Linked DNA regions of Homo sapiens. The protein of the gene in region 1 interacts with the protein of each later gene in a pairwise test. Each region holds a gene or a part of one and is shown on either strand. Other genes may lie near its edges.

Region 1 (4,208 bases):
CTGGGAGGTATTTGAGGTTGCTGGGTATTGGGTGCGGGAAGGAAAAGCCCATGACCCTGCCCCTCCACACCCTGCCCTACAGAAGGCAGATGGGACCTGTAACACCAACTTCAAGAAGACGCAGGCACTGGAGCAGGTGACAAAAGTGCTGGAGGACTTCGTGGATGGAGACCACGTCATCCTGGTGAGTGGGACACCCATGTCCCAGAATGTAGCAGCTTAAGACAGCCACCATTTATTCTTGCTCCAGAGTCAGTGGTCTTCTGCTTTGGGTGGGGCTGGACTGATACTGGCTGGCTTTGCTCAGTCTGAGGTCAGCTGGTGGCTTGGCAAGGCTGGCTGGTCCAGGGGGCCCTGCTCCCAGCTCTGCCGGTTGGCTCATGACTTGGCCGCACGTCTCTCGATAGCAGGATGGCCTGGGCTTGCTCTCACAGTGGAGGCAGGGGGCCAAGAGAACAAGTAAAAATGCAAGGCCTCTTGATGCCTGGGCTCAGAATGGCCACCATCATTTCTGCCGTTCGGCAAGTCATGTGACCCAGCCTGGATCGAGGGGTCTGGAGACAGACTCCGCCTCCGGATGGGAGTGGAAATTCATGGAATCCACCACTCTTCTCCATGCCACCTTGATGAATCCAAGCCCTCACTCCTCTGCCCTGTCTTCCCCATGGCTCCCCTATTCCATCCTGGCTAGAGCCTGCCTGCTCCTTTGGGGGAATGGGGTGAGGTCAGAGCTCAAGGTGGGCAAGGCCCCACAAAGTCCCCATGCTAACCAAAGAACGCTCCCTGTCACACAGCAAAAGTACGTGGCATGCCTAGAAGAACTTCGTGAAGCTCTGGAGATCTCCCCCTTCTTCAAGACCCACGAGGTGCGAGCCCTGGCTTCCATGGGTGGATGTATGGGTGTCGGGGTCCAGGTGCATGGAGGGGAAACCATTGATGAGTTACAGGTCAAAGATATAAAAAGGGGCTGGGCGTTGTGGCCCGCACCTGTAATACCAGCACTTTGGGAGGCTGAGGTGGGAGGATTGCTGGAGCCCAGGAGTGCCAAGACCAGCCTGGGAAGCACAGCAAGACCCCGTCTCTATTTGGAAAAAAAAAAAAAAAAAAAGGCCGGGTGCAGTGGCTCATGCCTGTAATCCCAGCACTTTGGGAGGCTGAGGCGGGCGGATCACTTGAGGTCGGGAGTTTGAGGCCAGCCTGGCCAACATGGCGAAACCCCGTCTCTATTAAAAATACAAAAATTGGCTGGGTGCGGTGGCTCATGCCTGTAATCCCAGCACTTTGGGAGGCCGAGGTGAGCAGATCACGAGGTCAGGAGATCGAGACCATCCTGGCTAACACAGTGAAACCCCGTCTCTACTAAAAAATACAAAAAATTAGCCGGGCGTGGTGGCGGGCGCCTGTAGTCCCAGCTACTTGGGAGGCTGAGGCAGGAGAATGGCATGAACCCGGGAGGTGGAGCTTGCAGTGAGCCGAGATTGTGCCGCTGCACTCCAGCCTGGGCAACAGAGTGAGACTCTGTCTCAACAACAACAACAACAACAACAAAATTAGCCAGAAATTGCTTGAACCCAGTAGGCAGAGGTTGCAGTGAGCTGAGATTGTGTCACTGCACTCCAGCCTGGGCAACAGAGTGAGACTCTGTCTCAAAAAAAAAGCAAAGCTAGGCATGGTGGTGCACACCTGTAGTCTCAGCTACTCAGGAGGCTGAGGCAGGAAGAGGGCTTGAGTCCAGGAGGTCAAGGCTGCAGTGCATTTTGATTATGCCTCACACTGAACATTTGCTGTGTATTTGCTATGTACCAAGCACTGTCTTAAGCACTTAATGTAGATTAATTCCTACATATAATATGCCCAGCAGCCTCTGAGGTAAATGATCCTACAGTCGACCCCTTATCCTCAGGTGATCTCCTCCAAACCCCCAGTGGATGCCGGAAACTGTGGATAGTACTGAACTATAGACTGTGTTTTCTCGATCTGATAACCAAGATGGCTCCTAGGTGACTAGTGGGTGGGTTGCGGATACAGCATAGACTTGCTGAACAAAGGGATGATTCGCATCCCAGGTGGGACGAAGCGGGATGGCACGAGATTTCATCACAGTAGTTAAACCAATGTGCAACTTAAAACTTACACATTGTTTGTTTCTGGAATTTTCCACTTAATATTTTTGGATCGCACTTGACTGAGAGTAACTAAAACCAAAGAAAATGAAACCACGGACTGGGGAGACTAACTGTATTACTCTCACTTTGTATATGAGGACGCAGAACCACAGAGAGGTTAAGACACCTGCCTAAGGCTGCACAGACAGGAGGTGGCACAGCCAGGATATGAATCAGGCAGCCAGGCTCCAGGGTTCATGCTGTCAATCACCCTGCTCTGCTGCCTGTCAGGAAGGGACCTTGGCCAGTGCCTGCTCCTCCCTTAACCTCCCGTCTCTACCCCGGCAGGTGGTAGGCAGCTCCCTCCTCTTCGTGCACGACCACACCGGCCTGGCCAAGGTCTGGATGATAGACTTCGGCAAGACGGTGGCCTTGCCCGACCACCAGACGCTCAGCCACAGGCTGCCCTGGGCTGAGGGCAACCGTGAGGACGGCTACCTCTGGGGCCTGGACAACATGATCTGCCTCCTGCAGGGGCTGGCACAGAGCTGAGCTGCTCAGCCACCATCAGGTTAATTGGATGGCGCCAGTCTGGCTGGAGGAGCCCTGAGATGCCATGGGAGGCCTGAGGTTGGCCACGGGGGAGCTGGCCTCCAGGGACGGGAGAGATTGTGTCATGTGCCACACGAGACCAACGTGGAAAAGTCTGAAGGGCCTTGGGAGACCAGGTAGCACCTGGCCCCATCATGATGCAGGGGTTTTGGGGACCTGGAAGGAAGGTGATGAGGCAGTGAGTCAGAAAAACCAGAACGGGGTCCCCGGATCTGCCGGGAAGGCTTCTGAGGGGCTGCCCTGAGAGCATTCAGTTCACATGTCACAGGGTATGGTGTGACAGGGTGCCTGTGGACACATGAATCACTTCTAACCTGCCTCCCTGTCAGCCTCCAGGCTGCCAGCTGGCTGAGGCCAGGGACTGGGTCAGGCTCATCTGTGGCGCCTCAGAGGGTCAGCATCATTGGTGAACAGATGCAGGCGCTGCTGGACCATCTGGGGAGAGTGACAGTCCATGTCTTCACCAGGGAGCCATTTGAGTGCTGAGCGACAAGAGGCTCAGAGGGCATGACCCCATGGGACTGGATGCGGCCTGAGGGCTGATACCGCTGGGCGGTATCCTGCCCTGCTGTGGCCCTGTGGGATCCTCCGTGTTCCTCGGCGGACTCTGCTGACCTCCTGCAGACCCAAACCACAGCCACATCCCAGCTTCTGTGCCAGCACTGTGACAGTACCTCGCTCCTCTGTGCACCAGATCCGGCCTCAGGACTTACACCTCCTGCCTGACCCCCAGGCTTCTCTCTCCTTTCTCCCAGCAAACTGCAGTGGCAGAAAGGAGGTTCAGAGGCTGGGAAAGTGGGCCTCCCCTTGCAACTCAGAGCTGCTGCACTCAGGAGGGCCCCATCCAATCCCGGGCCCCTGCAGGGAAAAGCGCTGGGTGTGTGTCAGAGGCGCAGGGTGGGTGGGGCTGCCAGCCAGGACCCTGGCCTGCAGCCTGATCCAAACCAAAGACTGTAGAACCCTGGGGTGTGGCTAACGGCCCCTCCAGCACCCATAGCCAGGTCTTCCTGGCCCTTGAGGCTGGGCTGGCGGACAGGCACCTACCTCTTCCTTAAGCTGAAGCTCCCACACTGTCTTCCAGGGCTGAGGAGATGCTCTCCTTTTCTACTGACCATCTTGATACTTATTTATACGAGAGGCAGTTGCTGGACGGGGTAGTACTGGGAAGCAGGAGGCAGAATGGCTCTGCTGAGCCTCCTACCCATGACAACACCCCAATAAACAGAACATTCAGAGCCAATGTCGTAGAGCTTTTTATTTTGCATCTGGAGTGTATTTGGACACGTGGGCTGGGTGGGGTAACAGGATAATGAGCAGTTTGGGAAAGAGGCAGGCTCCAAGCAGGCTGGTTCACTCACTTGGCAGTCACTGGGCGGCTATTCTTGTGCCTGGATGTGTTACAATGCAGGGGACACAGTGGTGAGCAAGGCTGCTCCAAGCCCTGGCTGGGATGGGGGATGCACAGACAGGCTGATCAGGGCTGGGATGGTG
Region 2 (3,500 bases), on another chromosome or scaffold:
ATGGTAGTGCCATTGCACTCCCATCTGGGCAATAAAGCGAGATCCTATCTCAAAAACAAATTTTTTTTCTTTAATAATATATTAAACTTAGCTTACTGTTAAGTTTTTACTTTATAAATGTTTCAGTTTTTAAAAACTTTTGGACTTTTTTGTAATAACACCTAGCTTAAAAGACAAGTACATTGTATAGCTATAGAAAATAATTTTTCTTTATATCTTTATAGGCTTTTTCTATTTAAAAAGTTTAAATTTTTTTTTAACTTTTAGAATATTTTGGTAAAAATGAACACACACACACACACACACACACACACACACACACACACACACTGAGCCTAGGTCTACACAGGGTCAGGATCATGAATATCCCTGGCTTGCCCCCCTACATCTTTATCCACTGGCACACCTTCAGGAGCAGTAACAGGCATGGAGCTGTTATCTCCTAGGATAACAATACCTTCTTCTGGAAGTCCTCCTGAAGGACCTGCCTGAGGCTCTTGAGGAGATGTCACTCTTTTCAGAAATTTGCCCATGGTGTTTTGCTTGGTTTATTTCTATTTTTCATTGTAGATTTGTTTGTAAGCAGTTAATGCAGCATGAACATTCCTGTGTATTAATGAAAACCTTTCTGTTTTTGGGGGTCCATGTTTTCACACTTCCTAAGGAGTTTGTTGAGGTGTGCAAAAGCTTCTCCCAAACCCTTCACTGTGAGTTTTGTTGGGGGTTCTTTTTCTTTCTCCAGCAAACTTCCTTCTCTCTTGCTGCTTCTTCAGCTTTGCATTCCTATTCCAGTTCCCACTCATTAGTCAATTCCTGCGATGTTATTGTGGCTATAACGTTACTAGATGACAGGAGTTTTTCAGCTCCATTTAACTACAGTCCATTGTTGACCAAAACATCATTTTGTGGCACACAACTGTATTTAGCTATTTTAGTGGTTGGGTAGCTGCTATCGTTTTTTCAGTGAAATTTGAGTAGTTAAAATGAGTCAAGTAGTAGCTGAAAGCATGACGAAACTTATAATAGGACTTTCTTTACTTGTAAATGATACAATATGGTATGGCTAGATTAAGTCTTTTAAAAATACTCATAGATTTCAACTTGGTTCCATAAAGCTGGAAGTGGAAACATTGGACATATATCAGAAATTCAATTGAACGCCTCCTTTTAAATTTATGGTTTACAGACTTGTGGCTCTTAGATCCCAGGGGATCTAAAGTAGACTGTGTTATAAAGTAGGCACATAACAAGACAACAGCCAATTTAAAAATATTAAATGAACTTGCTAATTCTCCATGATATTATATATATAAACTTTGTACCTAATGTAAACTGAAGGTAGTTATTAGCATTTCCAGGTTAGAAAACATAACTGGACTTCCCTTATCCACTTTTTTTTTTTTTGAAACGGAGTCTTGCTCTGTCGCCCAGGCTGAAGTGCAGTGTCACAATCTCGGCTCACTGCAACCTCCATCTCCCAGATTCAAGCAATTCTTCTGCCTCAGCCTCCCAGGTAGCTGGGATTACAGGTGTGTGCCATCACACCCGGCTAATTTTTGTATTTTTAGTAAAGACAGGGTTTCACCATGTTGGCCAGGCTGGTTTTGAACTCCCGACCTCAGGTGATCCACCTACCTTGGCCTCCCAAGGTGCTGGGATTACAAGCGTGAGCCACACCACACCCGGCCCCTTATCCATTCTTTTATGCTCTGTTACTACAGCAAATTATTCTCAGACATAGCTCCATCTTGGTAGTAGTGTTCTTGTTATTATCAGTAACAAAGTACATTAAGCTACTGCCTTTTGTTTTATTCTGTTTTGTTTTGTTTTATTTTGAGACAGTGTCTTGCTCTGTTGCCCAGGCTGGAGTTCAGTGGCGCGATCTCAGCTCACTGCAACCTCTGCCTCCCACGTTCAAGCGATTCTTCTGCCTCAGCTTCCCGAGTAGCTGGGATTATGGGCACTTGTCACTACACCTGGCTAATTTTTGTATTTTTAGTAGAGGTGGAGTTTTGCCATGTTGCCCAGGCTGGTCTTGAACTCCTGACCTCAAGTGATCTGCCTGCCTCAGCCTCCCAAAGTGCTGGGATTACAGGCGTGAGCCATGGTGCCCGGCCGAGACTTCTAAAACATAGGTGTCATTAGGACAGTTCTATAGGAGAAATAAATGCCATTTTAGTATTATGACTACTTTTCTTTCATTTTCTTTAACCATAGTTTCATTTTTAACACCTGTTCTATAGATAGAAAAACAAAGATACTCATGTCATCTAGTGTCTTGTCTCATTTATAACTTGTTCCCTGAATCAGCTTCAAGTCTTTCATGTTTATGTGTAAAACATAGGGCTGGGCGCAGTGGCTCACTCCTGTAATCCCAGCACTTTGGGAGGCCGAGGCAGGTGGATCACCTGAGGTCAGGAGTTCGAGAGCAGGCTGGCCAACATGGTGAAACCCTGTGTCTACTAAAAATGCAAAAATTAGCCAGGTGTGGTGGCATGCTTCTGTAATCCCAGCTACTCAGAAGGCTGAGACAGAAGAATCGCTTGAACTCAGGAGGCGGAGGTTGCAGTGAGCTGAGATCGTGTCACTGCATTCCAGCCTGGGTTGACAGAGCAAGCCTCCATCTCAAAAAAACAAACAACAAAAACCATTATAATTTATGCACACACAAATATTTAAAATGACTGTCACCTTTTTATACTTAGAATTGATCATTTATGATACATAGTATCTTAGAATTTTTTCCCCACGTACTGGTGCTGTGGATGTGAAATCATGGTGATTTATTAGGTTTAATTTGTCATGTAAAAGAATTGTGTTCTGTTTGTTCTCTATACATTTAAATATTTTAAATTATTATTATTATTTTTTTGTAGCTGTCCCCTTTCCTCCAACCCAACGGCTTACTTTCAAGGAAGTATTTGAGAATGGGAAACCTAAAGTTGATGTTTTAAAAAACCATTTGGTAAAGGAAGGACGACTGGAAGAGGAAGTAGCCTTAAAGATAATCAATGATGGGGCTGCCATCCTGAGGCAAGAGAAGACTATGATAGAAGTAGATGCTCCAATCACAGGTATAAAAAGTCTTTGCATGATACTTTTTTACAGTATAGATTTGCATGAGCAGTTTTGAGAAATAATTACAAATAACCAGCTAAAAAGTGGTGTGGTAATTTTTCTAGAAATTATGAGACAGTCAGGATTGGTTAGGATATTTGTTGTTAATTGAAGAAATACAATTTTAAGTGTCTCATATTTCCAGTAGAACTATTTAGTATGAGTAGATTGACTACAGTTTTACAGCAGTCCTGTCAAAAGCTGGAGTGATTTAAGTTAGAAGTTAAACTGTGATCCCTTTTGGTGTAATGCCCTTCGTCTTCTAAGGTATAATTTCTCACATCACTTTATGCTTTTTTTCCTAGTATGTGGTGATATTCATGGACAATTCTTTGACCTAATGAAGTTATTTGAAGTTGGAGGATCACCTAGTAACACACGCT

The links.
Region 2: the proteins of ITPKC (region 1) and PPP3CC interact in a two-hybrid assay, tested with the Homo sapiens proteins (one large-scale study listed by BioGRID and IntAct).

Annotation. Positions count from the first base shown.
Region 1 is NC_000019.10:40,736,904-40,741,111, forward strand, and holds the end of ITPKC (inositol-trisphosphate 3-kinase C), read left to right. Parts: intron 1-82; coding exon 83-184; intron 185-794; coding exon 795-866; intron 867-1,903; coding exon of another isoform or gene 1,904-1,948; exon of another isoform or gene 1,949-2,453; coding exon 2,454-2,657; 3' UTR 2,658-3,957; downstream 3,958-4,208. UniProt on the Homo sapiens protein: Catalyzes the phosphorylation of 1D-myo-inositol 1,4,5-trisphosphate (InsP3) into 1D-myo-inositol 1,3,4,5-tetrakisphosphate and participates to the regulation of calcium homeostasis.
Region 2 is NC_000008.11:22,472,078-22,475,577, forward strand, and holds part of PPP3CC (serine/threonine-protein phosphatase 2B catalytic subunit gamma isoform), read left to right. Parts: intron 1-2,876; coding exon 2,877-3,074; intron 3,075-3,422; coding exon 3,423-3,500. UniProt on the Homo sapiens protein: Calcium-dependent, calmodulin-stimulated protein phosphatase which plays an essential role in the transduction of intracellular Ca(2+)-mediated signals. Dephosphorylates and activates transcription factor NFATC1.